Homo sapiens: one gene and its partners. Each later gene encodes a partner of the first gene's protein in a complex. Each region holds a gene or a part of one and is shown in the gene's direction. Other genes may lie near its edges. The genes, in order: YEATS2, DR1, TADA2A and MBIP.

Region 1 (8,192 bases):
CGGGAGGCTGAGGCAGAAGAATCGCTTGAACCCAGGAGGCGGAGGTTGCAGTGAGCCGAGATCACACCATTGCACTCCAGCCTGGGCGACAGAGCGAGACACCATCTCAAAAAATAAATAAATAAAATAAAATAAAGTAGGAATGATAATAATAAAGTTGTTACAAAGATTAAATTTGTGAAGTGCTTGGAGCACTGCCTGGTAAGTAGTGTTATTAATAGCTAATATCCAATTATAACAATGTATGGGCTGGGAGCGGTGGCTCACGCCTGTAATCTCAGCACTTTGGGAGGCCGAGGTGGGCGGATCACCTGAGGTCAGGAGTTCAAGACCAGCCTGGCCAACATGGTGAAACCCCTTCTCTATTAAAAATACAAAAATTAGCCGGATGTGGTGGCATGCGCCTGTAATCCCAGCTACTCGAGAGGCTGAAGCAGGAGAATTGCTTGAACCTGGGAGACAGAGGTTGCGGTGAGCCGAGATCGTGCCACTGCACTCCAGCCTGGGTTACAGAGCAAGACTTCATCCCCCCAAAAATAACAATAAAATAAAAAATAACAACGTATGGCCAGGTTACCACAGTTTCTGATTTTCCATAGAAGCAGAAATTCAGGGTATTATGTGAAATTTGTCAGTGTTTGAAATGTTGGCTCATTTAAAACAAAATGTGACATCTGTAGGCTGTGACTACGCAATCTCTCTGAACTGTACTCTTTCATGGCAACCTCACCAGTGTTCATTAACTACCTGTTGACAACAGTACGTTGACAGTGCCACCCATCAGGTCTCTTCTGAGCCCCAAAGCCTTATGTACAGATTTAATATCTTCAGGGCTAGGTGTGGTGGCTCATGCCTGTAATCCCAGCACTTTGGGAGGCCAAGGCAGGTGGATCACCTGAGGTCAGGAGTTCGAGACCAGCCTGGCCAACATGGTAAAACCCCGTCTCTACTAAAAATATGAAAATTAGCCGGGTGTGGTAATACACGCCTGTAATCCCAGATACTTGGGAGGCTGAGGCATGAGAATCGCTAGAGCCCGGGAGGCAGAGGTGGCAGTGAGCCAAGATCGCACCACTGCACTCCAGCCTCGGCAACAGAGCGAGACTCTGTCTCAAAAAAAAAAAAAAAAAAAAAAAGTATTCGAGTGGATGCCTCAAACTTAAAATGCCCCAAAGGGAATTCTTGATTCTCCCACCCCCAACATTCAAATCTGTTCTTCCTTTAGTCTCCCTCCTTTCAGGAAATGACACCATCATCCACCATCAGCCACTGCTGGAAACGTATGAGCCAACCCCAGTTCTCCCTCCAGGCCCACCTCCAGTGGCTGTGCAGGTGAGTGCTGCCTAAGGGAGCCTGGCTAGCCAGGAGCCTAAAACCAGCCTCTAAACACTTGCCAAGCTCCAGAGCAGAGCTGAGTCTGCCTGGAGGAAGGGGCAGTTTATCTAAGAGGCCATTTTGACTTAGCAGAGGCCAGTCCCCTTCCCTTCTCTCCCCAGTCTCCTCCCAGTTCATCGTCATCAAGTCTTCTGGTATTTTCTCCATAGTTCTTGTATCTATCTCCTTCCCACCATCTCCACTGCCAGGGTAAGCCATCCTCATTTTTTTTTTTTTTTTGAGATGGAGTTTCCCTTTTATTGCCCAGACTGGAGTGCAATGGCACGATCTTGGCTCACTGCAACCTCTGCCTCCTGGGCTCAAGCGATTCTCCTGTCTCAGTCTCCCGAGTAACTGGGATTACAAGCCACCACGACCAGCTAATTTTTTTGTATTTTTAGTAGAAACGGGATTTCACCATATTGGTCAAGCTGGTCTTGAATTCTTGACCTCAGGTGATCTGCCCATCTCCGTCTCCCAAAGTGCTGGGATTACAGGTGTGAGCCACCACGACCAGTGCCACCCTCAATTTTTGCTTGGATGACTGAAATTGCTTTCCAACTGTCTCACTGCTTCTATGTTCACACACCTCTTCAGTCATTCCCCACCTACTCATTGGGGCAAATGATTTTTTTTTTTTTTGAGACGGAGTCTCACTCTGTCACCTAGGCTGGAGAGCAGTGGCATGATCTCGGCTCACTGCAACCTCCACCTCCCAGGTTCAAGCCTCCAGAGTAGCTGGGATTACAGACATGTGTCACCACGCCCAGCTAATTTTTGCATTTTTTTTTTTTTAGTAGAGATGGGGTTTCACCATGTTGGCCAGGCTGGTTTCGAACTCCCGACCTCAGGTGATCCACCCACCTTGGCCTCCCAAAATGCTGGGATTACAGGCGCGAGCCACCGCGCCCAGCTGCAAGTGATGTTTTTAAAAGGGCAAATAGGCTGGGTGTGGTGTCTCACGCCTGTAATCCCAGCACTTTGGGAGGCTGAGGCGGGCAGATTACGAGATGAGGAGATCGAGACCATTCTGGCTAACGCAGTGAAACCCCGTCTCTACTAAAAATACAGAAAATTAGCCGGGCATGGTGGCACGCGCCTGTAGTCCCAGCTACTCGGGAGGGTGAGGCAGGAGAATCACTTAAACCCAGGAGGCGGAGGTTGCAGTGAGCCAAGATCATACCACTGCACTCCAGCCTGGGCAATAGAGCAAGACTCAGTCTCAAAAGAAAAAAAAAAAGTTTCATTTTGGTGAATATTTGGGTAAACAGTTCAAAGTTGTAGTCTTATCAGAACTTTACCCTTCTTCCCCTTGACTTCCCAAGGCGGCCTACAGGATACAGGGGAAGCCTCAAGGCAGCGGTGGGAGGGGAGATCTGTGTGCGGGATTTCAAGCTATAGCCTGGGTTCTCACTGGCCTCTGCTGCTATGTCTCTGGTGACTTCTGGTCTCCACTGCCCTGCAGGCATCAGCTGCTGAGGTGGTTGGTTGGCAAGCTCATGACCTGTTGCTTTAGCACCTTCAGAGTTTGATGTCTCATCTTTCATCCCCACTCCTCCATCCCCGCTCCTCTCACCAGCTGACTTAGGGGTGCTTCAGCTCCACTGGTATCTTCAGTACTGCCTATCCTTGGGGTCTTAGCTACGTTCTGTAGCCATTCCCTGGCCATCAGCCCACCACAAGGCCTCTGCTTTAGGAAACCTGCCCCCTGGCACAGTGCCTATTGGTCTGTCCATGGCTCTTAACCATGCTACTTTCTGCATGCCAGGCAGGGAGCAACAAGAGAAGTCTGGAATTCTGACATACCTAAATGTGCAAGCTGCAGCGCTCCAGCAGCACTATTGCAGACTCCTCCCAACGCCATGGCCTGCTCCCAAGCCCTACTGTGTGAGCCTTCTCACAGACTTGGACAGCCTTCCAAGCTACACCAAGGGAAGTCAGCTTCTAGCTTTCTTGGCACTTATCTGGGTATTTCTATGCTTTCCACCTCACTGTTAAACCCTAAGAGTAGGGGAACACCAACACACTCATCCTGACCTGTGACCTCACCCCCTTCTCCATGAAATTTGTTTATCTCCCCAGTTCCTATTATCTCTTGAGTCTTAGCTTAAGGTTCAAGGAAGCCTTTCTTAGTTTTTTTTTTTTTTGAGATGGAGTTTCACTTTTGTTGCCCATGTTGGAGTGCAATGGCTCACTGCAACCTCCACCTCCCGAGTTCAAGTGACTGTCCTGCCTCAGCTTCCCAAGTAGTTAGGATTACAGGCATGCCCAAATACACCTGGCTAATTTTTGTATTTTTAGTAGAGACGGGGTTTCACCATGTTGGCCAGGTTGGTCTTGAACTCCTGACCTCAGGTGATCCGCCCGCCTCAGCCTCCCAAAGTGCTGGGATTACAGGCATGAGCCACCGTGCCCAGCCAGGAGGATCTCTCGAGCCCGGAAGTGTGAGACTAGCTGTGGTGATAGTGAGACCTGTCTAAAAAAACCAAAATTAGCCTGGGGGTGGTGGTTCACGCCTGTAATCCCAGCACTTTGGGAGGCTGAGGCGGGTGGATCACCTAAGGTCAGGAGTTCGAGAGCAGCCTGGCCAACATGGTGAAACCCTGTCTCTACTAAAAATACAAAAATCAGCCAGGCGTGGTGGCGCGCGCCTTGTAATCCCAGCTACTTGGGAGGCTGAGGCAGGAGAATCGCTTGAACCCGGGAGGCGGAGGCTGCAGTGAGCCAAGATCATGCCACTGCACTCCAGCCTGGCAACAGAGGGAGACTCTATCTCAAAAAAAAAAAAAAACACAAAAAACAAAACACCACTTATATTTATTATGCGTTGATAAAAACATTAAATACATTAAAAATTTGGTAACATGTATGTAAAGTATAAAAAAAAAAGTGAACTTCCTAAACCCACCACTCAGCTCCAGTAGTAAATCGTTATACAGTGAGAAGGGATTGAAGGGGAACAGAAGTTCCCCAAGACCAGTTGGGAGGCTATTCATAGTCTTGGGCAGAGAGATTACAGGGTCTTGGGTAGGGTGGTAGAGTTACAACGAAAGAGAATGTTGGCCTCAAGTGATATTTAGGTGGAAAACTGGACTTGGATTGTCACTAGCTAGTGTGACTGAGATAAGTCTCAAGCCTTCCCTGCCTCAGTTTCTTCATCTGTAAAATGGGCTAGAAATAACTACTGTTATTTTGTATACCCAGCACTTAGCACATGGGTTGGCACAAAGATGGCACACACAAACATCATAGTCACTATTGTGATTAATAGGGAAGCTCATACACGCCGGCAGAATGAATATTCTGTCAAACTTGGGGTTGAAATTCGCCATCTTCTGGGGCAGGAAAGTGATGGACGACTGTGCCTTTGCAAGAATCGACGCCCACACTGCCCAGGAAGTGCCCTCGCGGGCCGGGGTCCCAGCCCGGACCAGCCCCGCCCCGCCCCGCCCCGCCCTCATCCCTGGGAGCTCCGCCCCGAGGCCGCGCGCGCCGCCGCGCGCGCCCCGACGCGCCCAGCTGCTGACGTGCGGGGCGGAACGCGCCGGGCGGGCTCCACCGCGCCGTGTGCTTCCGCAGGTTGCGGGGGTCGCTGGGGCCTTGTGGCGGGGCAGCTCCGCGGGGCTTCGCCCGCTCTCTCACCTCGCCGTGCTCTCTCGCGGCGGCCGGCGGGGCCCGCGCTGCAGCCGGAGACCCGGAGAAAGGGTGAGTGTTGGCGGGCGCAGGAAGGGACCGGCCGGGAGCGCGCCCCGCTCTCCGGGGCATTGTTTGGGCGGGGGCGGCGCGGGCACGTGCGCGCCCCTCCCCCATCGGCAGGCAGCGCGGCAGCGGGACCCGGTGAGGCCCCGGGGCCGAGGGGAGGGCAGGGAGGATCCCAGGTGCGGGCCGGGGAGCCGCAGAAGCGGGAGCCTGGAATTGGAACGTGAGTTGGGGGCTTCCTCTTCAGCGGGGCGCTGCGCTGAGGGGATACGGGACCCCGAGCCACAGCGGCCGGAGCTTTTAGGATGTTAAGCTCTTGGCCTTGGAGGCAAGATTTGGCCCCAGCACCAGAAAGTCGTGGGTTTACCGAAAGGATCCTGGAATGCCCCTCCAACCTGTCGCCATCCCCACCGGGCCTCCCTGGGATGGAGGGGAGGGGTCAGAGAGGCTTTGGGGGTCCAGGGATGGGGCCGGGGCCAACGCGCCGGAGCTGCGGGCAGTGCGGGGCGGAGTGGAAGCCTCGGAAAGTGAGGACTCCTGCAGGAAAGGCTGGCTTGAAGGGCTGTGGCCAGACTGCAGAAGACAATGAGGTTTTCTCCATCATGAATGTGATTATGTTAAGAAATAGAAACCAGAGGAAGAGAAATGCCATCAGCAATCTTACAGGCCTGACACATCATTTTTTTTTAGTTTGATGTTGGCTAGTATTTTCATCTAAGCATTCAGCAGTTACAGAGTTGACCCACGTTTTCCATTCCCTTTTCTCGCTCACATGTAAAAAATGCGGTATAATATTATATAGAATTCAGCAATATCATTTCCCCTTTCTTAATGAGTAGAGGGTATTCAGCGTAGAAAAATTTAAAAATACAAGCAAAGCCAGAGAAAAATGCCCGCAGTTTTACGATCTAGAGATACTACCCTTGGATGTATATTCCTGTTTGTGTATACTCTTTAAAAGATAGGGCAGATGATGCCCTGATAAGGAGTTTAGTTTTTCCCGGGAAGCCTTTGAAGGTTTTGAGAAGGCGAGTAGCATGATCCGACTGCTATGTAGAGGAAGAGGGCTGGGGAGGAACCTACGAGGTCAGTTACTGTGCTCTTTGCAGTAGCTTGGACTAGGCCCGTGGCAGGGAGATGGGGAAGTATAAACAGATTTTTAAATGTTTTAAGGTAGAATGAACAAGACTTGGATTGGTGAGGGAATGGTGGGAATCTTTGCTTTTTTGATTTTTGTTTTGAGCAACTGAGTAGGTGGTGGTGCTGTTTACTGAGATGAAGAATGGAAGAGAGAAATTTGAGGTGGGAAAAACGAATTCTATTTTAGATGTATTAAATTTTAGATGCATGTTAGTTATGAAGTCGGTGTGTTGAGGCAGTTGGATGTAGAGGGCTGGAACTCAAGGAGGAGAGAGGCTAGAGCTAGAGATAAAAATCTGGGAGTGGCTGGGCGCGGTGCTCACACCTGAAATCCCAGCACTTTGAGAGACCGAGGCGGGTCGCTTGAGCCCAGATATTCTAGACCAGCCTTGGCTACAAGGCAGGAAGGACCCCGTCTCTTAAAAAAAAAAAAAATTGGGAGTGATCTGTACGTAGATGATATTCAAAGGTATGGTGCTGTGTGAGATCACTGAGGGGAAAGAGTGTGGAGAAGTGAAAAGGGCGCAGACACTCAAATACCTCTAGGTCTGGTAGAGGAAGAAGGTTGGGGAAAGGACGCAGGAAACAGCAAGTGAGGTAGGAGAAAAAGCTCCTACCAAAATGGCATGTATCATGGCAGCCAAAAGAGGTGTTTCTGGAAGATGTTGAATTGGTCCTTTTATCAGGGCTTCTGAGATGTTCATTAAGATTGTCAATTGAATTTGGCAACACGGTGGTTATTGGTTTTGGTCATTGGTCTTCCTGTCCATAGTTCTGGAAGTGGGAGGTGGGAACCGGATGTGAGGAAATGAAACTAATGAGTGCAAATTAGAAAAAAAGTGCCCCATTTCCATCTGCCCCAAAACTAAACTTAATCGATGAAAAATGGTGTCTTGTGTTTTTTTCATTTATTGATTACTAGTATGTTTGAACATTTTTTTCCCATTTATTGGCTGTTTGTGAATTTCTTTTCCTGTTCTCTGTCATCTTTTGTTATTTCCTAATTGATTGTCAAAAGTTCTTTAGATATTAAAAATAGGTAGCTTGACATACAGCATGCAGAGTTCTCCCCACATGTTTCTCAGTTTCAAATGCTTCATGTTCATTCAGTGGATGCATGATATTTTACTGTGGGTTATTTTTTATTATAAAATCCATAGGAAGAAGAGAATTAACATTTAGGTTGTAGATCTCTGAGTGTAGCCCACATACGATGTACATTACCCTGTATTTTCTTAGAATAGATTCTCAGAAATAGTTGGTCCTGTCCTCTTCTCATCAACTACGGATTTTTATTTGAATGTTCATTGCCACGTTCTTGGATTGTTCCCTATCTCCCTGCCTTTGGTCCTGCTCTGCTTTCAGTCTGTTTTCTGTCGTGATACCCAGTAGATGGTGGGAGTTGATGCAGTTTTCTCACAGAAAACAAGACTTGTGAAGCAGATTTTTTCTTTTTCTTTTCTTTTCTTTCTTTTTTTTTTTTTTTTTTGAGACAGAATCACAGTCTGTTGCCCAGGCCTGTAATCCCAGCTGCTCGGGAGGCTGAGGCAGGGGAATTGCTTGAACCCGGGAGGTGGAGGTTGCAGTGAACGGAGATCGCGCCACTGCACTCCAGCCTGGGCGACAGAGGGAGACTTCGTCTCAAAAAAAAAAAAAAAAAAAAAAGGCAGATACAAAAAGCCACGTGCTGTATGATTCTATTTATACGAAATGTCCAGAAACAGGCAAGTTTATCCACACAAAAAGTAGTTGCCAGGGGGATGAAGGGAGAGGAGAATTGAGAGTGACAATTAAGAGGTAAGTGGTTGCTTTTTGGAGTGATGAAAACATTATGGAATTAGATAGTGGTGATTTTTGTGCAACTTTGTGAATATACTGAAATCCACTGAATTGCACTCTTTTAACTGGTGTGTGTATATATATATGTGTGTGTGTGTGTGTGTGTATATATATATAAATTTTTTTTTTTTTTGAGAAGG
Region 2 (7,632 bases), on another chromosome or scaffold:
TGAACAAGGAGACAGGGTTCCTGTCATTATAGAGCTTAATCTACTGGGGAAGATTGAGTGGGAAAGATTGACTTAAATAAAACAGTAAGTTCAGAAAGTTAGGAAGTGTTGGAGTCTATATTTAAACTTAGGTATTTTGACCCAAAAGCCTGTACTGTTTCTAACATACCATGCTGATGCTCTAGCCTCCATTTTATATGCTTAAACTTATTATGGGGCTTTTAAATAGAATATGTATTATCCTTGCCAGGGCAAAATATAAAGAAATAATTGACTGCCTGCTATATCTGTCTTCACCTTTCTATCCCTATTATCTGTTTTTTTATTCCTCTTTTTTGTCTCCCTTGTTTCTTACCCTGACTTATGTATGAAGATCTCTAGTATTTCTTTACTATTGTGAGGATGACCAGCGGAGAGGTAATATTATAGCAGTTGCCTAGTACTTCTTCCCTAGAGCACTGAAGTTCTAAATATGAAAGAGTGGATAAGTAAATATATCTTTTTTATCACTTTCATTTTGTTTCATTTTTTAGACTTTAAATATTAACACAATGACAGCCTCATTTGAAGCTAGCAGCAAATATTTGGAAGGAGGGAACCTTTAATACATCAAGATTAAAGTTAACTTTAAATTATAAATGAGTCATTTTAATATGTGGGAGTGAGAATCTTAAAACATAATGAAAACCTCCAAAAGAAAAGTGAATTAGGAAATACATGCCTGCTTACCTGTCTTTCACACCCCAATTTTAGAAGAAAAATACTTGGGATGGATTGAGTAGGGGGCAAGAGAGAAAAAAATATATTACAGTAAATATCACTGAAAAATGTTCAATTTGTGGAAATGAATACAAATAAAATTTTATCAATCAACTTTTTTTTTTTTTTAAAGAGACAGGATCTCACCATGTTGCCCAGGCTGGAGCACAGTGGCTATTGACAGGCTCGATCAGGCACACTTCAGCCTAGAACTCCTGGGCTCAAGGGATCCTCCTGCTTCAGCCTCATGAGTAGCTGGGACTATAGATGTGCACTAGTGAGCCCAGCTCAACAGTTAGTTTTAAAGGCATAGAAATGTTTTTATGTTCAGAGAAAAGTATCAGCGCTGATACAGGGCCGTGGTAGCTAAAAGTCAATTAAATTTGAAATGTAACTAGTACACAGCTTTGCAGACCATTGAATAGACTACCAAATCAAGCACCTTTGCAGTAAAACCTTTGTAGAGACTTGAAATTATTTGAATTTTTTCCATGTCACAAAATTATACCAACTTGTAGTTGATTAGACCACAAAATATAGGTATGCTTATGTTGGTTGAATTTATGTATTTGATTTGCCCTGCAATTTTCTTATGAACTCTTACAATTTTTTTTTTTTTTTTGAGATGGAGTCTTGCTCTGTTGCCCAGGCTGGAGTGCAGTGGTGCTATCTCGGCTCATTGCAACCTCCGCCTCCCGGGTTCAAGCGATTCTCCTGCCTCAGCTTCCCAAGTAGCTGGGATTACAGGCATGCACCACCATGCCTGGCTAATTTTTGTATTTTTAGTAGAAACAGGGTTGCATCCTGCTGGCCAGGCTAGTCTCAAACTCCCAACCTCAGGCGATCCGCCCACCTTGGCCTCCCACAGTGCTGGGATTACAGGCATGAGCCACCGCGCCCGGCCTTAAAATGTTTTTAGCGAAGCTCTGTTAGTTGGTTTTGAACTCTGGATATTCCTGCCGTAAAAGTAAATATGCTATTGTGTTAGAATCAACTATTTTTCCTATTTCTTTACAAAAATGGATGACAGTCATTATTAGGGAGAATGGATGGTTTCTAATTTCCTAAGCAAAATGAAGTTTTTGTTTACTGTAAAAGTTGTCTTATCCTTGTTTTTTCTAATATCTATAGTCTTTTCCTTACTTATTTCTTCCTCTTTGCCTTTAACCATATACGGGTCTTCTGCATTTCCTTGTATCCCCCAAACCCTTTCATCTTTTGCTATAATGATCTGTGTTACCCACCAAGCAAGGTGGCACCTTCCTGTAGTCCCAGTTACTCGGGAGATGGAGGCAGGACAATCCCTTGAGGCTAGGAGTTCAAGGTTGCAGTGCATAACAACTATGCCTGTAAATAGCCACTGCACTTTAGTCTGGACAACATAGCAAGACCCCATCTCTAAAATAAATAAATAAATAAATAAATAATGATCAGTGCTACCATTTTTTGAAAATGTACAATCACTTATTCCTCAAATTTAACTTCTGTCCTACCACAGAGGCATTTAATCACCAAATTCAGTAATTTTTTTTCCTTTCAATTCTTACTCATCTGTTTTTTTAAAAATAACATTTAATGTAGACCTCTTCCTTTATTAGTCTCTGATACTATGGTTACTTGGATAGCTTTCCCCCAAGGTAATAGCTTTTCTTCTTCCACTTCACTACTGCCACCTACACCAGCACCACCCTACTCCTGCCCTTCAGTCAACAAATTTCAAGTCAGAATTCAATTAACATGTCCCTACTGTATGTAAGACATATGTGGTACTATAGATATAAAAAAAAATGAAGAATATATCATTATGAGACTGACTACTTGGATGAGGAAGATAACTATAATATGAGGCTGACCACTTATGAGAAAGAGATTCTGGCTGGGCATAGTGGCTCACACCTGTAATCATAGCACTTTAGGAGGCCCAGGTGGGAGAATCACTTGAGCCCAGGAGTTTGAGACCAACCTGGGCAATATAGTGAGACCCTCTCTCTACAAAAATAGAAAGAAAGAGGGAAGAAGGAAAGAGAAAGAAATCCCAAGTATGGAAACATTACATCAAATTTTAGGGGTACAGGAGTATGCCAACTAGTAAGCAATTATCTTAGCTCCAGACCCACCTTTCTATGCTCTGCTTTGTGACTGGACCTAGTACTCTGCAAGCCACATGTTTCTTTGCTAGCTGACTCTCCATTAGACTCTGTTGCCATATGGGGCTATCGTGGGAGATTGCATGGATGGAGGAAGAGAAAGGGTTTTCTCTTACTTTCTCTTGTCTTTCAGTTCCTTTGAACAACCCAGCAACACTTCTTCACCCTGGTTGCATCAGTTTTCCTGTAGCAGAGACTGAACGCGGTTTGCATTTTCTCTAATACACCACCAGCCTGAACCCGCACCCCATCCCCCCACTCTGGCAGTGTGGATCCCAACCCTTGGGGCCCTCCTCCAAGCGCAGATATATTAGTACTAGCTTATCTATGCCCATTCTTCCGAGGCCTGAGTTTCAGTTCCATGAAGTGGTTTCTTAAGCTTCTAAATTTTAAAAATTCCAGCATTTTCCTTTATTCCCTCAGTTTTAGGGTTGGTGGCTGCTTCCTGTAGCTGCTACTTTCATGACATCTTCATGTTCTCTTCCTGCCTTTTCAGCTCCCTAATAACAACTTTATACTTGTTTAACAATTCTTCGTATTAAATTTTTTCCATTCCAGTAACTCATGTGACATCTATCTCTTGATTATACACTGACTGATGCCAGGAGGAGAAAATAGTATTTCAGTTTGACTTGAAGGAAGGGTAGAATTTCAGTAAGTGGCAGGAAATTTCACATAGGATGAGTGTCAGCATGAGTAAAGGTAGCAAAGATGAGGAAGTATGGTGTATATTTGGGAAACATTTTGTGTTCTAGGCTTTTTTGAAGCACAAAGTACATGTTACAAAAAAAGACTATAGAGAGGTTGGGGTAGACACTAATTTGGAAGACCTTGAACTCTAGGCTAGGAAATTTGGATTTGATTGATAACAAATGATTTTTTTTAAAAAAATGAAATAGTGACCTGATTAGAATTTATATCTAGAAATGTTTGGATAATAAAGTCATGACAGATTATTCAGAAGAGTGAGGATTGTACATGGTAAAATCTTAAATGTTACTGGTTATGCTGGGCATCACTGTTTTCCTGTAGCATGTTCATTCAGAAAATACTGAGGGCCTTTATGTTAGGAATGCAACAAAGAATATGGAAACAATCTCTATTCTCAAGTGTGGTGGAAAAAAAGGATATAAACTTAGATAATTCTAGAACAAAGTGGATGGATATGGGAATGCATAGGGAATTATGGTATATTAAATAGAGCATAAAATATGGCTTGGAAAGGTCAAGAAAGACTAGCTGATTTGCATTTCAGATGATGACTAGGAATTAGCTATGCATAAAGGGGAGGGTCTGAGTTGGACTTAAAGAACAATTCCAAGAACAGACAGAGAAGGAGAAAAGGATTGTTTTGGCAGAGTCTAATGGGAAATTGTAAGACCTTTTTAAGAACAGGTTCATTTTTTCCCTTCTTGGTGTGGTTTTTCTGCAAACAGATGAAATTAAATTGTGAAGGAGCCTTAGCTGTTTCATAGGTAATTAATAATGTATGCATCCTGGTTTCTTAAATCCTGTGGTTGTTTTTAATAGAGGATATATCAGATGAATGGATTTTAAGTAGTATCTTTTTACTAGTGTGTATACGGGAAGGATATGTATATTTGTATGTGTGTATATGCAAATGTGTGTACTTACAGAGAGGGAATGAGGGACACAGAGAGATAGGCATATAGTAGGTTAGGGAATTGTAATAGAAACTCAGAAAGAAATAATGGGGTAGCTACTGCATACATGTACAGTACTTCTTTCCTATGAGGTAGAGGTACTATACTAGAGAACTTTTAAACCATATAAATAAATTTTAGATTGAAAAATGTTTGTATCAAAGTTGTAATATGAGGGTACAGAAGAGTCAAGTGAAATGAAAGGAAAAGAAGAGGGAAAGAGCCAGAGGGAATATTGTGGGTTTTTCACAATATTGGTTCCACTTTTTCAACTTCTTCAGTTGAATCAAAGGTCATAAATTACGTGAAATAAAACAGGGCCATTTATAAGAGATCCAAGTTTGAGAAATTTCTTAGACCTGTGTAGTTAGAAAAAAGCAATCTCTAATTATATTTACCTATAGAGTTTATGTTCTCCAGATGTGTGACAATTACATAGTACTTGGACAGTATCCAAGTATGATAATAAACTGTCTGAAATTGGCCTAATCTACATTTAACCAAAGTGTATATATTGTGGGTTTGTAAAAAATTGTTATTTTTTTTTATGTTTTGGGTGTTTAGGCTAGACAGCAACAAGCAGAATTGGCCCAACAGGAATGGCTTCAAATGCAGCAAGCTGCCCAACAAGCCCAGCTTGCTGCTGCCTCAGCCAGTGCATCTAATCAGGCGGGATCTTCTCAGGATGAAGAAGATGATGATGATATCTGAAATTCACCAGCTGAGTTTCTATTTCTTCTATAAATGTTTTTCCCTGCACAACAAAAACAGTGAAAGAAATGCTTATCTGTAATTTTGTATGCATCTTGGTGGACTTGTCATTGGTATTCTAGGGATGTCTGCTATTAAGTTTCATCTATTGTGTGCTATACATGTAAAAACTGTCTCTTTGAACTATTGAAAATTTAAGGTTCAGTATAATATCAATTTTGAATTTTTAATGGTGTTTATGAAATTTTAGATAGCAGCGAGTCCTTCGTTTGATCAATAAACAGTGTTACAGATAACTTCAAGTTTATAAAAATACAGTGAAATTTCTACAAAGCTCTAAATCTGCATTTGCATTTCCTCTGCCCTTTTAACTAAACTAAAACTTGTGAATTTTAAATTATTAAGGGGGGGGTGCTGTGTGAATCAGTAGACATTGGATTGGGTTGGTGAAAGAGTTCAGTTCTGTAGTATCTGAATTTGTCTTTTAAAATGAGTACATATATAGGCAATAAATATATATGCTCAGATCAATATACTTGTTTAGAAAAACTTCAAGACATTCAAAAACTAGGAAGGAGTATGTTTAATAGTATTTGTATAAATTTGGTGGTTATGTTTTTTTATTTTGTTTCTGTTTTGTGTAGAGGTAAAAACTATAGTTTTATTACAGCATAATTCATTTTGAGCTCCACTATGACATTTCAAAGACTGCCCAGTTTGGAAGTCTGTCATGATTTTTACTCTTTCACTCCAATTCAGTAATTGTTGATAGTATTACTTACCTAGTCCATCCATACTCATATTATTCAAATATATAGGTGGTACTTTTGAAACAATTACATTGGTTCTCTTGGTTTAACTGAGGTTTATGAATATTCAAACCTTTGCTGGGGGAAAGAAATGAAAGTTAATGAGCATGCTTGCTATGAGAGAGGGATTTTTAATTTAACTTGTAGTTATAGTTTACTTATTGTTTTTAGAATTACTTTTACATTTTCCCAACTAGATGGCCTAGAGTCCAACATTACCTTTTGAGATGACATTATTGTCTCCATAATTGAGTGATAGCTTTAAAAAAAAGATTAGTTTTGCTTAAGAAGTTATGTTACAACTGATCAGCCCTATATGAATTAACTGATCAGCCCTATATGAAACATAAGTTGTGTTATAACTTATCAGCCGTATATGGAACATAAATAGTTTCTACCTGCTTGTTAGAGAAGCTTTAATTTGGTTCTAATAAATACAGTATGGTAGTGTTTATAGGAATCCAGGATGTTGAAGAAATGGCATAATGTCTATATTTTGGAAACAGAAAGGAAAAGTCACTTAAGATAGTATTAAGTAATTAAATTCCTATGTCAGTTGCCAAATCTTTTAAACTTATGTATTCACCAAGCCCAAAAATAGATTGTGGCTCCCAGGATTCCAATTTTAATTGGAGAGCTAAGTAAGTAAAGTTTTATAACTGTTAGGTTTCTTAATGATCATATTTTGCAGTTTTAGTAAAAGGGAAATATTGTTATACATTTATTAAATATACTTCCCCCATGAAGTGAAAAGGTTAATTTTGCTGAATGTTTTAAGTTGAAGTTACTTCATGGATGTCATACCCATGAAGTGCATTTGGATGAGATAGAAGAAATTGTTTTTTAAAAAGTTTAAGTACCAAAGGTAGTCTAGTCTAGAACGATAAGTTAATACGTGTTGGCTTTTCTAATTTGTACTGTAACATCCTTATACTTTCTATTTTAAGTATATCTGTTTCTTAAGTAAACAACTTAGATATTTTCCACACCTTTTTTTTTTTTTCTGATGCAGAGTTCAGGTTAATATTTTACTGCATCTGATAATGTATTATACGTTTGAAGCCTAGTGACTTTTCATTTTGACATTCTTGTGATTTCATATGCTGTATTCTTCAAGCAATAAAATTGTGATGTGTTTTATAAATGGTTTTTATATTTAATGTTCTATAGAGAGATTTCTATTATTACCATTTTTACTATTTTCAAGAATCTTAGGCCCAAAAGACATTTTGGTCATTTGGTATGTAGTACCTGCCTTTTGTTTTTGTTTACTGTTATTTCAAAAAATGTGGTTTTACTTGTATTTTTATAATTTACAGTCCTAAGATCGAGGCATAACAAAGCTTACTTATGCAATATTTTATTTTTAGGTTTTTTCTTTTTTTTTTTTTTTTTTTTTTTTTTTTAGCATTTAAGAGTCACTATTATGTTTTGCCAGTTAAAATTTTTTAAATCTTTTGAAGAGAGAAACAAAATCTTCAGCGTTCTTGAGAAATAAAATTATTGTTCAGTAAGTATTTTTCCATCCCCTTGAATATATGT
Region 3 (7,632 bases), on another chromosome or scaffold:
ATGAAACAATGAGGCGATTTGCAAGAATTGTGGGGCCAGTGGAACATGACAAATTCATTGAAAGCCATGCATGTAGGTGGTTTTTGAGCCTTGAGCAGTATTTGTGTGTGTATATTTATATAAATAGGAGAGATAATGGTGTGTTTTATGTGAAGTTCTATAAATAAATAAATGGATATTTCTCTCTTTGTTCCCCTTTATTACCATGAGACAAATTTGGGACTATGGGGGTGGCAGAAGAGAGGTTAAAAAGCCCTAATGACTTCCCCCATTGCCCCAGATAAACAATAATTTAGTAGTTTTTCTCCCTACTTTGTATCATGGGAACTTTCAAATATATATAGAAGTAGAGATAATAATATGATGAACTCCCGTGTATCCATCATCCAGCTTCAGCAGTTTTCAACACATGGCCAGTCTGGTTTCATCTTTACCACTCACTCTTCCCTCCTGCCCTCAACTGGATTATTCTGAAGCAAATCCCAGACATCATTTTATTTTGTTCATAAATATTTTAGTATTAAAAGTAGTTTTAAAAATGAGGACAGAGATGGATAGCTTGTGGAGATAGTACTTCCATCGATCTCTTGCCTTTCTGTGGTATTTCTGTGAGAGCTCTACATAGTTACCATTTGATTTTTCACTATAAAAAATTAAAAGTTGTTATGAGGCCGGGCGTGGTGGCTCACACCTGTAATCCCAGCACTTTGGGAGGCCAAGGCAAGAGGATTGCTTGAGTCGAGGAGTTCGAGACCAATCTGGGCAACATAGTAAAACTCCATCTCTACAAAAATACAAAAGTTAGCCAGGCATGGTAGTGCACACCTGTAGTCTCAGCTACTTTGGAGGCTGAGGTGGGAGGATTGCTTGAACCCGGGTAGCCGAGGTTGCGGTGAGCTGAGATCACACCACTGCACTCCAGCCTGAGCGACAGAGTGAGACCCTGTTTCAAAACAAAATATGTTGGTATGGCAGTAAGGCCTAGATTGTTAAAATAATATGGACTCTGGCTTGTTCTGTACCTTTCATCATGACATTTGTGTATGTGGCTTCTAAGTTTAGTTCTGGGAAGGTAGTCTACTAAGGCCCTTATTCTCACCGTGAAAATATTTCTTACATAGCATTGCAGACATTTATCTGAGCCAGGTTGGTTGTCCTCACCAAACACCTTGTTTGGTTAGCATTCTTTGTGTGGTTTGTACCAGGTGACTGATCCTTTACTTCCTGTCCCAGTTTGGGACACACCCCTGGTTTATGTGTCATTCCAAAACACTACACCCCATGGATTGTCCAGGCTCTTCCTTCATTCTCTGTTTCAAAAGCAGCCAAATTAGAATGATTTGTAGAACTTTTAATAGAAGATAGTTAGAGCAGGGAAACTTGGTTGTTAAAAAAATTATATTTTGCCCAGTGCGGTGGCTCATTCCTATAATGCCAGCTACTTTGGAAGGCCGAGGCGGGTGGATCACCTGAGGTCAGGAATTCGAGACCAACCTGGCCATCATGGCAGAACCCCATCTCTACTAAAAATACAAAAATTAGCCGGGTGTGGTGGTAGATGCCTGTAATCCCAGCTACTCAGGACGCTGAGGCAGGGGGAATTGCTTGAACCCGGGAGGTGGAGGTTGCAGTGAGCCGAGATCATGCCATTGCAGCCTGGGCGACAGAGCGAGACTCTGTCTCAAAAAAAGAAAAAAAAAATTGTTACTTTTGTAGACAAATGAATTTAACCATTTCACTAAGTTTTCTAGAAGACAGTTCCAGCTGCTGCATCTGGAGACAGCAGCTGGAAGATAGCTGGAGTAGGTTTTCCTCAGCTCTTGGGTAAAATTTCTAATGAGAAGTTACCAACGAGTAGGATTCTCCAAATGAACTTCCCTAGTCTTATAAGGCAGAATTAATGAAAATGCTCAATAGCAAAAGTGCTCACTAATGTTGCTTTTGTTTTTGTAATTTTTTCCTTCATTCCTTTTGGGGAAAACAGTGGAATTTGAACTCCGAAGGGAAATCAAGAGGCTCCAAGAATACAGGACAGCAGGCATTACCAATTTTTGTAGTAAGTATGCTTCAGCTACATACCGTACTTGAGGGCAAGTATCTTCCAGACACACAGAGGAAGTCTCTGAATTGTTGTGAATTTTTTTTTAAAAAACAAGCTTTCCTTTACCAGAATGCTTTAAACCTTTCCAGTAAAGTTTTGGCTATTTAATCCCTATAAATACCTTTGTATAGATTATCTTTGGTACTACAAAAGTTGTGAGACAAAGGAAAGAGAGGTGCTGCTTTAGATTTAGGATTCTGCCGAGGCTCTTTAAAAAAAGGGAATCTTGGGCCGGGTGCAGTGGCTCACACCTGTAATCCCAGCACTTTGGGAGGCCAAGGCAGGTGGGTCACTTCAGTCCAGGAGTTCGAGACCAGCCTGACCAACATGGTGAAACCCTACCTCTACTAAAAATAAAAAAACTAGCCAGGCGTTGTGGTGCACACGTTTAATCCCAACTACTCGGGAGGCTGAGGCACAAGAATCGCTTGAACCTGAGAAGCAGTTGTTGTAGTGAGCCAAGATGGTGCCACTGTACTCCAGCCTGGGTGGCAGAGGGAGATTCTGTTTCAAAAAAAAAAAAAAGGAATTTTATATTTTAGGTGTGTCACCCTTTTCAAATTTAATGATACATGGTCTTAGCATTTTTATAAAATAATGAAGCTTCAACTGGCTCCAGGTGCTTGCATCCCAGTTACTTGGGGTAGTGACAATAATTATATTATTAGCAGCTAACATCTATCAGATATTTACCATGTACCAGTCTCTATGCTAACCATTTCACTTGGATCAAGTCAATGAATTCTCATGACAAACTTATAAAGTACCGTTACTTCCATTTAGTGAAGAAATTAAGGTATAAAGAGGTTACAGAGCTAGTTAGTACTAGAACCAGGTCATAAGAGATAGTGTATTATAGTAGTTAAGAGCTTGGGTCTAGACTTAAAAAGCTTGAGTATAAATTTTGGCTCTCCAGCTTGCCAGCTCTGTGATGTGATTCTATCCAAATTTATTTTTCTTTCCTTTTTTTTTTTTCCCTAGAGACTGACTCTTGCTATGTTGCCCAGGCTGGTCTCAAACTCCTGGCCTCAAGCAGTCCTCCCGCCTAGGCCTCTCAGAGTGCTGGGATTACAGGTGTGAGCAACTGTGCCTGGCCTCTATTCAAGTTTTAATTTTCTAAGGTTCTTAGAGTTAGTGTAAAGATTTAATTAGAGATACTGCATATAAGCATAGCACAGTATCTGGCACACAATAATTCCTCAATAAATGGCAGTTTCTGTTGTTTTGCTGTCATTGTTGAAATGATCTTTAGCATTCCCTCCTTCTTCCTATTTGAAGTTTTTGTGATTATTGATAGTTGTCACCTACTATCTATAAGAAATAGTTGGCTTCTTTTTTTTTTTTATTTGAGACGGAGTCTGGCTCTGTTGCGCAGGCTGGAGTTCAGTGGTGCCATCTTGGTTCACCACAACCTCTGCCTTCTAGGTTCAAGCGAGTCTCCTGCCTCAGCCTCCTGAGTAGCTGGGACTACAGTCATGCACCACCATACCCGGCTAATTTTTTTTTTTGTATTTTTAGTAGAGATGGGGTTTATCCATGTTGGTCAGGCTGATCTCGAACTCCTGACCTCAGGTGATCCACCCACCTCAGCCTCCCAAAGCGCTGGGATTACAGGTGTGAGCCACCACGCCCGGCAATAGTTGGCTTCTTAACACAGCCCTGTGGGTGCAACATAGCCTTATGGATGTAAGTTCAGCCTAGTATAATGGCTCTTTAACAGTGGAAACCATTTTTGAAATTAAATTTTGTGTGAGCCCCAATCTACAAATAAGATAAAAGTGGGCTGGGCACGGTGGCTCACACCTGTAATCCCAGCACTTTGGGAGGCCGAGGCGGGCGGATCACTTGAGGTCCAGAGTTCAAGACCAGCCTGACCAACATGGAGAAACCCCGTGTCTACTAAAAATACAAAATTAGCTGGGCATGGTGGCGCATGCCTGTAATCCCAGCTACTCCGGAGGCTGAGGCAGGAGAATGGCTTGAACCTGGGAGGTGGAGGTTGCTGTGAGCCGAGATCGCGCCATTGCACTCAAGCCTGGGCAACAAGAGCGAAACTCCGTCTCAAAAAAAGATAAAAGTGGAATTACTTTGGTTGAACTTTAATGGTTCAATTTATGTGTAGAGCCCAGGACCCGCCGGTATCTGGCAGTGCCCTTTCTCTTTACATTAACCTCTAAGATACTCTTGTGGTATCCTGGGGCTCTGTGGAACCTAGTTTGAATTTTGAAACCCACTGGTGCAGTATTTTGGAATCTGTGAACCTTTGTTAACATGTAGAAAACACCACGCAGCTCTTCTGTTTAGCAAGATGCATATAGAGACTCTGATAACTAATTTTGGTTTCCTGATATTGGCTGCCTCTAAGAAATATGGAGAAGAGGTACTACATGTCAAAGAGAACTCTTTTTTTGTAATTCTAATTGTTTTTTAAGGAAAGGCATATGCTTATAGCACTTGTGTGACTTTGAAAAAATTTATAAAAATAGAAAAAACAGGAAGCAAATATGACTATAGTAAAAGTTGGTTACTTTTTGAGAGTGGAAATATGAGCAATTCTTACTTTCTTTGTACTTTTCTGTTGGTTTTTTTCCCCTTATTTCTTACAGATAGAAAAGGAATACAAATGTTTAATATTTAATACTTAGTATTAAGAAAAGGATTTCAGACTAGGGAAAATCTACTTGGGTCTTGGAGAAATAATTGTGAAAGCAGTTTTGCAAAGGAAACAGACTTTAAGAACAAAACCCAAAACCGGTTTCTTGGTCAGTTAGGAAGCCCTTCAGTTCTGCTGCATTGTCATTGTGGTCATTGTGTTTTCTATACCCCCAGGTGCCAGAACCTACGATCACCTCAAGAAGACACGGGAGGAAGAGCGCCTTAAACGCACTATGCTCTCAGAAGTTCTCCAGTATATCCAGGACAGTAGTGCTTGCCAGCAGTGGCTCCGCCGGCAAGCTGACATGTGAGTAATTACTCCAGGGTGAAGGAGGCATTCTTTCTGGGATGCCTTGGCCTTCACATATATTTTTGGGCACCCTAGATGGCAGAGTAATAATAATTGAGTAGCTGGAAGAATTCAGAAATATTTTAGCAGTCCATCTCAGAAACAGTGCCATACTGACAGTTTTGAGAAATAACTGACCTCCTAGAATCATACTTTACTACTTTGATCCTATTTTTTAAAATGAGTGTATTTTCCCCCAGCCTTCTACCCATGACTTCAACTCTCTCTTCATACCTAGATTTTCACTGGGGAATCATGTTTGTATCCCTTCCCCTTGAGTGGTGTTAGTGGTGTTCTAGATTACAAGCTCTTCTTAACAAATCTGAGGAATTTTTCTTCCTCAGAACAGATTTTCTTTCCTGCTCAATACAGTGAGATATCTGTAAAACATAGTTCAGTCTATCTCATTACACTTCTTCAAGGTGACCTACCTGATAAATGGCACCCAGTCTCACCGGGGCTTTTGGAAATCACCTTGTTTGATATGACCTAAGTTTAAATTCCTCTTCTTCGTTGTAGTGATTCCGGCCTGAGTCCTTCCATTCCAATGGCTTCGAATTCAGGTAATTATTTCTCAGGCCAGAACAAGTCTTAATTGTGAAGTTTGCATCGTAGGGGTTATAGTGACCCAGCAATCTTCCTTCCTCTGTGGTGTCAGGGTGCTTAGGCAGAGTAACAGTAATCAAGTGTTAGCCCAATATATAAACATCAGTATGTTTTCAGAACCTTCATGGCCAGACAGAGACTATCCTCAGAGTGACAGTATAGAGTATAGACAGTATAGAGACAGGGGAAAAAAGAACTTCAGAGAGGTAACTTCTTTATTTTACCAATGTTCATGAGCAGTTAGTTTACTGCAGTTGTGTCTACCACTAATTTTGAGACTTATTTCACAGGAGATAAATTAAAAGCTTTTTATTTTATTATTTTTTATTTATTTACTTATTTTTTGAGACAGAGTCTCGGTCTGTCGCCCAGGCTGGAGTGCAGTGGTGTGATCTCGGCTCACTGCAACCTCCGCTTCCCGGGTTCAAGTGATTCTTCTGCCCCAGCCTCCCGAACAGCTGGGATTACAGGCATGCACCACCACGCCTGGCTAATTTTTGTATTTTTGGTAGGGACGGTTTTGCCATGTTGGCCAGGCTGGTCTCGAACTCCTGACCTCAAGTGAGGCACCCACCACGGCCTCCCAAAGTGCTGGAATTACAGGCGTGAGCCACCGTGCCCAGCCTAAACTTTTTATTTTTATATAACATGAGCAAAGAAGCATGTTACTTGCCAGAAACATAAGGATTTCTGAGTTAGAGACCTAAAGTATTTCTATTTCTTCGTTTTACCTCTTTGAGTATGTCCTATTTTGAAATTAGTATACAGAGCAAGATTAAGCCATACGCTATCTGATGATCCTTGGTGATTGGTAATCGATGACTGGGAATTGGGGGAGGTATGTCTCAGTAGATTCAGAATCTGGGTCTCAGATTTGTCCGCGTTAGGGACTTTTTTTTTTTTGAGATGGAGTCTCGCTCTGTCACCCAGGCTGGAGTGCAGTGACGCGATCTTGGCTCACTGCAACCTCTGCCTTCCGGATTCAAGCGATTCTCCTGCCTCAGCCTCCCAAGTAGCTGGGATTAGAGGCGCCTGCCACTATGCCCAGCTGATTTTTGTACTTTCAGTAGAGATGGGGTTTCGCCATGCTGGCCAGGCTGGTCTCGAACTGCTGACCTCAGGTGATCTGCCTGCCTCGGCCTCCCAAAGTGCTGGGATTACAGGCATGAGCCACTGCGCCTGGTCACTGAAGGGACTTTTTTTTTTCCCCCATTTATTCCTTTATTTCAAGTGATTTTTTCTTAATATGGAAAGAAGAAAAAGGTATTGTTTTAGGGGAGTGGCTAAGACAGTGAAATCAAAGTTTTATTTTGTAAGTTTCTTACTGCCAACACTCTACCCCCAAAATCTAAATACAACTAAGTTAATACTGGCTAATTAAAATGAAGGAACTGGGTCAGGTGCAGTGGCTCATGCCTGTAATCCCAGCACTTTGAGAGGCTGAGGCGGGCAGATCACCTGAGGTTGGGAGTTTGAGACCAGCCTGACCAACGTGATGAAAACCCATCTCTCCTGAAAAAAAAATATAAAAATTAGCTGGGTGTGGTGGTACACATCTGTAATCCCAGCTACTCCAGAGGCTGAGGCAGGAGAATCGCTTGAATCCGGGAGGCAGAGGTTTCAGTGAGCCAAGATCGCACCATTGCACTCCAGCCTGGGTGACAGAGTTAAGACCATCTCAAAAAATAAATAAATTAATTAATTAAATTAAATGAAGGAACTGGCTAACATGATCATATATTTTTGTTCTCTGTACTATCTGCACTGACTTGTTCATTGTTTCTTTTTTCTTTTTTTGTGAGACAGGGTCTCCCTCTACTATCCAGGCTGGAGTGCAGTATGTGATCATGGCTCACTGTAGCCTCAAACTCCCAGGCCTAAGTGATCCTCCCAGTTCAGCTCCTGAGTGGCTGGGACTACA
Region 4 (7,632 bases), on another chromosome or scaffold:
TCTCTACTGCTACTACTAGAGTTGAAGCCACTGTGATCTCTGGCTTGGACTGATGGAAGGATATTTACTGGTTTCTTTGCCACTGGACTCCTCTAGATCATCTCTACCCTGTGGCCAGATTGCTTTTTCTAAAGCTCAAATTTGATCTTGTTTCTTCCCAGCTAAAAATGTGGAGATTGGGATTGAAGGGGGTTTGTAATTTTAAATAGTATTGTCCACATCTGTAGTTCCAGCTACACCTCTGGGCTTCCCATCTCCCACTCGTTGTGCTGCTTTAGGATCTTTATACTCATGCCCTTCTGTCCATGCTTTTTCTTCCTAATCCTAGACCAGTGCAGATTCACCTTTTGTATAATCTTATATAGCACCTGGTATTCCCTGCTCCCCTTTAAAGCAGTTATCATGGTTCTGTTTGTTTAATGTCTGTCTCCTGCTAGATAGTCCGTGAGAGTGCAACTATGTCTGTCATATTCATTTCTTTGTACCTATTACAGTGCCTGGCACAAAGCAAGTGCTCAAATGTTTATTGAATGGACAGTTGCTTATTTCACCTTTGCAGATGTATGTACGGAGGGACAGAAAGTTAGTGTTTGACTCTCTCAGGGTAGGTCAAGGGATGATGGCATCCTAATGAAGTGACATTTGAGGCCTTGAAGGATTAGTAGGAATTTTCCAGAGCAAAGCATTCCAAAAAGAAGAAACACCATTTGCAAAAAAGGACAAAAACACAAAATATGGTTCAGGAGATATCTGAATCCAGTATAGCTGGAGTATACTAGCTATCTGAAGCTATGCTAGCCAGATGAAGGTAGAAGAAGAAAACAGAATGAGTAAGTCTTTGAGAGTAATAAGACACTGGCATTAAGAATTAATCTCTTCCCTCAGAAGTGGATGGGTTTAAAATGCCACTGTATAAAAGGATTGACTGGTTAAGTCTCTAATAATAGTATGAAACAGTTAAGTTTTTGGAAAAATATCTGTTGAATGTTTACTATGCTCCAAGCACTATTTTAGGCACAAGGGATACTGAGATGATATAATCATAGTCCCCAGCTTCAAGGACTTTATAATCCAAATGAGAGAAAGATTAATAGTGAAGTAGAGTTTTAAAGGAGTAATGAAAGGATGGGTGTAGTGGTGTGTGCCTATAATCCCAGTTCCTTGGGAGGCTGAGTGGGGAACAGAGCTTGAGTCCAGGAGTTTGAGACCAGCCTGGACAGTATAGTGAGAGTCTGTCCCAAAAAACTCAGGAGCACTGAAGAATGGTGGGGGCACAAGGAGCCTTTATGCGAATGAAGAGGTTTCGGCAGTGCCTGCGTTACCCAGTGAAGCTTGAACTGGCTCTTGAAAGATACAGAAGTAAGGCAGAGGACATTGTAGGTAAAGGGAGCAGCAAAAGCAAAGTCAAATGAACAAGTTAACTTATTTAAGAACAAGAACAACCAAGGTCCTAAGATTTCTTAAAATCCTCAAAATTTCTAGAATTTTTACATAACAAGTTGACAATTTTGATATAGAAATTTACCCGTATTCTTTAATTGCATAATGATTGGCTAATCATGTATTCATTCAGTCAGTAAATATCAAGCACCAGCTCTTTGCCATGCATTGTAGTCTTATGAACTGATGCTTCCTAGGTTTGTGCAGTGCACAAGCTGCACAGCCCTACCTAATGAACAAAACAGATAAAACTCTGTCCTCTTGGAGCTTATATTAGAATGGGGAAACAAATAATACAGAAAGAAAATATACTGAATGTTGGGTGGTAGTAATGGAATGGAGAAAATTAAGGTAAGGAGGATAAGGGAGTGCTGGGTAGGGGAGTGGTAGTACTGGTATTTTTAACAGAATAGTCAGAGAAGGTGTTACTGATAAGGTAACTTTTGAGCCAAGACTTGAAATTGACTTGGGATTATGGCGGTAGAGGGAACCAGCTGAAGCTTACAGGGTGCTTGGCCTCTTTGAATAACAGAAAAAAAGTAATCAAGTGGCTGGAACCATGTGGGCATAGGGAGAATATCCACATTGTGTATGGCCTTGTAGGCCATTGTGAGGGCTTTGGTATTTAATCTGAGTGAAATGATCAGGTATTGGAAGGTATTTAACCTCAGTGAAATGATCAGGTATTGGAAGCAGAGAAATGATGTGATCTAACTTATATTTTTAGAGGATCACTGGCTCCTGTGTTGAAAATACACTCTACGGAAGCATGGCAGAAACAGGGAGACCAGTTTGGGAGTTGCAGTAATCCAGGGAGAGGTGGAAGTGGTCTGGACCAGAAAGGCCACAGTGTGGAGGGGGTGAGAAGTAGAAGGATTCTTGATATAATCATAAATTTAAAATTTGAGTGGCCATAATTTACTCTTCCCCTCCTCAGAAAGTTTGTTAGTTTAGAATTATGGTAAAGCCCCTTTTTTACATTCTTTTAGGTCAAAGGAAAAATATGGCATGTAGGGAGAAATATTAATTGAAGAAAATAATATGACATATTGCAACCACTGCATTGAATTATCGTCATTTGTCACTATGCATTTTTGTCCTCCCATGTAACTATCAAAGCATATCAGAAATATAAATTGTTCTACATGGAAGCTATTCAATATCTTGTAAAATGAATTTAACATGAAACTCCTAGAATATAGGAAGCATAAATGGGGTTTGGAGAGAGGAAGTGTAGTACAATATGTCCGATAGTGTATAATACAAAAATACGACCTAAGGACTTCATTCTGTTTTACTTTTGTTTTTTATTTTCTTAAGTATTTTCCATTCCTTTGCATAAGTGTCTTTGCATGGTATTTTAAGAATAAAAATTGTGAAAAGAAAGAATTATTCAATAGTATCTCAGATTTTTTTTTAATGTATTTAGGTGGTCCAGTGCCAAGAGACATTTATCAGAGAATTAAAAAACTTGAGGATAAAATCCTTGAATTGGAAGGCATCTCTCCTGAATATTTTCAGTCTGTAGTGAGTATAAGTGTCTTTTAAAAATAAATGAAAATGTTATTGTATTCTGGATTCTTTGTGGTTTAACAGTCACTCATTGATCTATAAGCAAAACACTATTTTAATAATTCAAAGATGAATGAACACAGTCCTGTATAGGGGATATATCTAATTCCTTAAAATCTCTGGTTCTGAATATTTTTAAAATTTAGAATTTTTAAAAAGGGATACTTCTATTATATATTACCCACATTCTCAAACTTAGGCCATTTTCATGGCATAGTAAGTCAGCCTGGGTGGTGGTTGGGCCTGTTACTCTGAACTTGCTACCTTGTAAAACAGAGGCTTCCTCTGTAACCTTGCTCTTTCAGTGATCCCTCTGCCTCTTTAATCTCTCTTCCCCAACAGGCTCCTTCTCTCAGCTCATATGCAGTTAATACTAAACAAACACACACCTCAAGCTGCCACTCTTATTCTTTACCTTAACCACCAGACTTTCTATGTTTTTGTAATTCCTTAACTCTAGCATTCATTCATTCTTACCCCGTTTTCCAAGAACCTTAAGAAACAGTGTTGTGCTGGTAAGTTAGTATCTTTGGCACATCAACATTTTTCAGAAAAATGATCCTGAGCTCATTGTGTTTTCCTCAGTCTTCTGAGGTGATTATGTATAATACCTGCCTTCTCTAAGTTTTGTTTTTTTTTTAAAGCAGTACCATATTAGAACTAAAATAATATCAAAGTGAGATTATACCAAAACTCCTATTTCTGAAAAATTATGTGAGATAGCCCATTTTAGCATGGATCATATAAGTTAGTGGTGAAAATATATTTAAAATTTATTTTAGGTATGACAGCAATCTTCCAAAGTTATAGATTGAGTATAAGAGTGAGTTACAGAAAAGAAGTATTTCCAGAAGAAGAAGGCAGGTCACGTAACAAAAGGGAGCAGCAAGTCCTAAATGACAAAATTTCAGAGAAGAGTTTTAGTGATTTACTACTCTCAAATGTAAAATGAGGTTTATGAAAATACTAAGGGCTGAAGCAAAGATCAAATGAGATAATGCTGATCAAACACTTAGCATACTGCTTAGCACATGGTAAAAACCTCATTGGCATTTATTTAGTTTTATAACTACAAAGTAGCTGTATAAACGTGGAAAAGTCACTCTATTCCTCTGATCTTCAAGATGTCTAATTTTAGAAAATGTATTGGTTGTACTACATAATTACAAAGGTCTTTTCACTTTTAGGATTATTCTTTGAATGTCTTCCTAGGAGACTTCATAAAGATTTTTAATGACTTTTCCTACAGTAGTCTACCATAAGTTTTTCCCATTCTAACTGCCTTCATTAAAGAAGGCAATAACCTAGGAAAGTTATTTTTCTAGTTCAATTTCATACCTTGTTAATATAATTCTTATTAACGATAGAACCGATCTTACAATAGAGTATGGTAAAATCAGATGCCTCCAATGAGAACTTGCTGCAGCATCATTCCTCTCTTCTCTCTGATTCTGATTTATAAAAACTTAACAGAGGCCGGATGCAGTGGCTCACGCCTGTAATCCCAGCACTTTGGGAGGCCAAGGTGGGCGGATCACCAGAGGTCGGGAGTTCAAGACCAGCCTGACCAACATGGAGAAACCCCATCTCTACTAAAAATACAAAAAAATAAAAAATAAAAAAAATAAGCTGGGCATGGTGGCGCATGCCTATAATCCCAGCTACTTGGGAGGCTGAGGCAGGAGGATCGCTTGAACCCAGGAGGCTTAGGTTGCGATGAGCCAAGATCACGCCATTGCACTCCAGCCTGGGCAACAAGAGCAAAACTCGGTCTCAAAAACAAAAAAAACAAAACTTATAGATGTGTTTAACAAAAAAAAAAGCCCTCCACATCATAATCTTTTTGTTTTGTTTTGATCTGTTACAGATAGGATAGAGTGGGTAAAGAGGTAGAAGTAGCCAGATTGTTAGGACCTTAAGTGCTATGCTCAGAAGTTTAAAATCTATTTTCCAGGCAGGCAGCAGGGGGAATCTACTGAAAGCATTTGAGCAGAGAAGTGATTTGTGAACACGATATTTAGAAAGATTTATCTAATACAGTTGTGGGAGACAAACGAGAGAAACTAAGGATAAGGAGATAGTATTATGCTAGCTTAGATGTGAAGTTAGTTCCTAAAATAGGGACATGAGTGAGAATGGAAAAGATTAATGCAAGTAGGAAAAAAAATGGACAAATACTGATGATTGGATGTGGAAAGAGACAGAGAACAAGGATAGAGTCCAGTTTCTGGTTGGAAAAATGATACCATCATTGATAGAAATAAGAAAATCTAGAGAGAGAGATACTTTTGTGGGAAATGTGAATTTGAAGGCAGAGGAGGTTATGAAGGTAAAAACATCAGGTAAGCTTTTTGAGATACGGCACTTACACTTGGGACAATTGGGAGAGTCTGTGTAGTGTGAGAGTCCATTGATGGATAGGAACACAGATTGTCTGAGGCCTGAAGTCTGAAGCTTGGTGACTGCCTAATTTCAGGGGCAGGAAGCATTTGTAAATGTAAACAGAGGATTGGCATATATGTATTAAGCATTCAGAAAAGGATGGATGGTGGCAACCTGTGATAAAACAGGTGATTTTTAAAAGTATTTCCAAATATGTTAAAAAAAAAAACTATATATCTTTTAGAAGAACTGCAGTTCTTCTGGATTAGTGTTGTAAGTGACACATTAAATTAGTAGTGAGCTACAAGGAAGAACAAAACACTGGAAAGTTTAAACATTCAGACTCATTCTGTCCTTTAGGCCTGTGAACATACATGACACAAGCCCTATGGGAAAGAAGATTTCATACTCATCACCCTTCTATAATAGGATGAATGAGCCATCTTTAGGAACCTCACTTGGAATACAGTCAGCTCTAAGAGTGTCCTTGCAAACAGGAGAAGTTGAGCACATACCTTACAGAGGACATAGTACATTATTCATCACCCTCACCATCATGCTGGGAGTACATGCATGGTAATTGCATAATTTTACATATTTATCCCTCAAAAGTATACAGAAGAAACTACATATGTAGCACAGTCCTATAGCTTCTAAAGATAGGAAAGGAAAGTTGAGCCCATTCAGTTTATTAAGGATTGAACTTTTGTTGGAACTCCTGAACTCTGAAAAGATTTTCATTGAAATGTGTTTATTCAGATTCACATGTAGATGAATTCTAAACATGGGGGAGCTTCTTACAATTGGATAGAGATTGATTATCATGGGTAACATTGAAGCGTAGCATAGAAAAACAAATATTTATGGGGAAAAAAGATGTCATTTGTATTTGTTTTATAAAATGTAATCAGATTATGTAAAGTTCTCATTTTACGACCAGACATAAAACTCCAAAATAAGTTATATGTGTATAAAACAGGATTTATGACAAAAGTTAATAATACTTGTTGGACATTTTGATATAAGAGTTCTAAAGATCTTTATTCTTCACATTAGCCATGGAAAGCTTTAAATGTAATGTTTTCAAAAGTTTAAGGGCATGGCCTTAACAGTCCATTTAAAAGAACGATCTTAGAGTATTTCCAAAGACTTACTGATTTTAAATTATGATACTTGAAAACAGTAAGTACCAACATGCTTTTACAAGTATATTGTTTAGTTTATAGCATTTATCACTCATATGTTTATACATGTTTTTCACTTTATATTTTGAAACTCTCAAGGGCAGGAACTATGTCTTGTTCATCTTTGAGACACAGAATGTAGTCAATATCGAGTAGATGTGCAAATGAATGGATAGGACTTGGCTGATAGCTCATTATTGGACTTTGAAGGTGTGTTAACTTTGTTCAAAGCACTGACTGAGAGTAATTTTTAGTCTGTAACAGTAACTCCTGGTTCTTAAGGGAAGTATCGGGGGAGGGGAATGCTGAAAATCAGGTCAACATCATGTACACAGGCCATGTGCGTGTGAACGTGTGGTGGGTCTGAAGCATGAGTGAACAACTGGATTCAGCTAGAAAATTAGATTGTAAACATATTTCAGAGGGCCTTGAAGGTCACACTAACCAGTTTGCACTTCTAGTATCATTGGAGCACAATTAAGTTTTAGAGAAAGAGAGAAACTTGTAATTTAGGTCCCTGTCTGGTGGCATTATGAAGTCTGAGTTGGAGAGAAATTGGAGTCAAGGAAACTAGTTTAGGAAACATGTCATTATCCAAGCCAGAGAGAAATGAAGGTCTGAATCAGGGCTCTGGGACTAGAAGGGAAGAAAAACATTTTAGATACTGCACGCATAGAATCAGTTGCCTTTTACAACTGAAAGAAAGCAAGCCAGTCATGGAAGAGGCCTCCTTACCCTTGAGTTTCCTTAGAGCACTGGTTCCCTGGATTCATATGTGTGTGTGCATGTGCGTGAACGTGTGTATGACAGTCATGCTCTGCATAAGGATGTTTCAGTCAACAGTCAACTGCATATATTACAGTGATCCCATAAAATTATAGTATGGTATTTTTACTGTATCTTTTCTATGTTGAGACGTGTTTAGATACACATATACCATTGTGTTACACTTGCCTACAGTATTCAATACAGAAACATGCCATAAGGTTTATATGCTAGGAGCAATAGACTATACCATATAGCCTAGGTGTGTACCATCTAGGTTTCTATAAGT

Evidence for each region.
Region 2: YEATS2 (region 1) and DR1 share a complex: the UniProt entries of both Homo sapiens proteins name them as parts of the ADA2A-containing complex.
Region 3: YEATS2 (region 1) and TADA2A share a complex: the UniProt entries of both Homo sapiens proteins name them as parts of the ADA2A-containing complex.
Region 4: YEATS2 (region 1) and MBIP share a complex: the UniProt entries of both Homo sapiens proteins name them as parts of the ADA2A-containing complex.

What each region holds. Positions count from the first base shown.
Region 1 is NC_000003.12:183,692,915-183,701,106, forward strand, and holds the start of YEATS2 (YEATS domain-containing protein 2), read left to right. Parts: upstream 1-4,882; 5' UTR 4,883-5,079; intron 5,080-5,163; exon of another isoform or gene 5,164-5,296; intron 5,297-8,192. UniProt on the Homo sapiens protein: Chromatin reader component of the ATAC complex, a complex with histone acetyltransferase activity on histones H3 and H4. YEATS2 specifically recognizes and binds histone H3 crotonylated at 'Lys-27' (H3K27cr).
Region 2 is NC_000001.11:93,355,359-93,362,990, forward strand, and holds part of DR1 (protein Dr1), read left to right. Parts: intron 1-5,134; coding exon 5,135-5,281; 3' UTR 5,282-7,632. UniProt on the Homo sapiens protein: The association of the DR1/DRAP1 heterodimer with TBP results in a functional repression of both activated and basal transcription of class II genes.
Region 3 is NC_000017.11:37,465,470-37,473,101, forward strand, and holds part of TADA2A (transcriptional adapter 2-alpha), read left to right. Parts: coding exon 1-72; coding exon of another isoform or gene 73-167; exon of another isoform or gene 168-186; intron 187-1,984; coding exon 1,985-2,056; intron 2,057-4,930; coding exon 4,931-5,063; intron 5,064-5,624; coding exon 5,625-5,668; intron 5,669-7,632. UniProt on the Homo sapiens protein: Component of the ATAC complex, a complex with histone acetyltransferase activity on histones H3 and H4. Required for the function of some acidic activation domains, which activate transcription from a distant site. Binds double-stranded DNA.
Region 4 is NC_000014.9:36,303,427-36,311,058, reverse strand, and holds part of MBIP (MAP3K12-binding inhibitory protein 1), read left to right. Parts: intron 1-2,869; coding exon 2,870-2,967; intron 2,968-7,632. UniProt on the Homo sapiens protein: Inhibits the MAP3K12 activity to induce the activation of the JNK/SAPK pathway. Component of the ATAC complex, a complex with histone acetyltransferase activity on histones H3 and H4.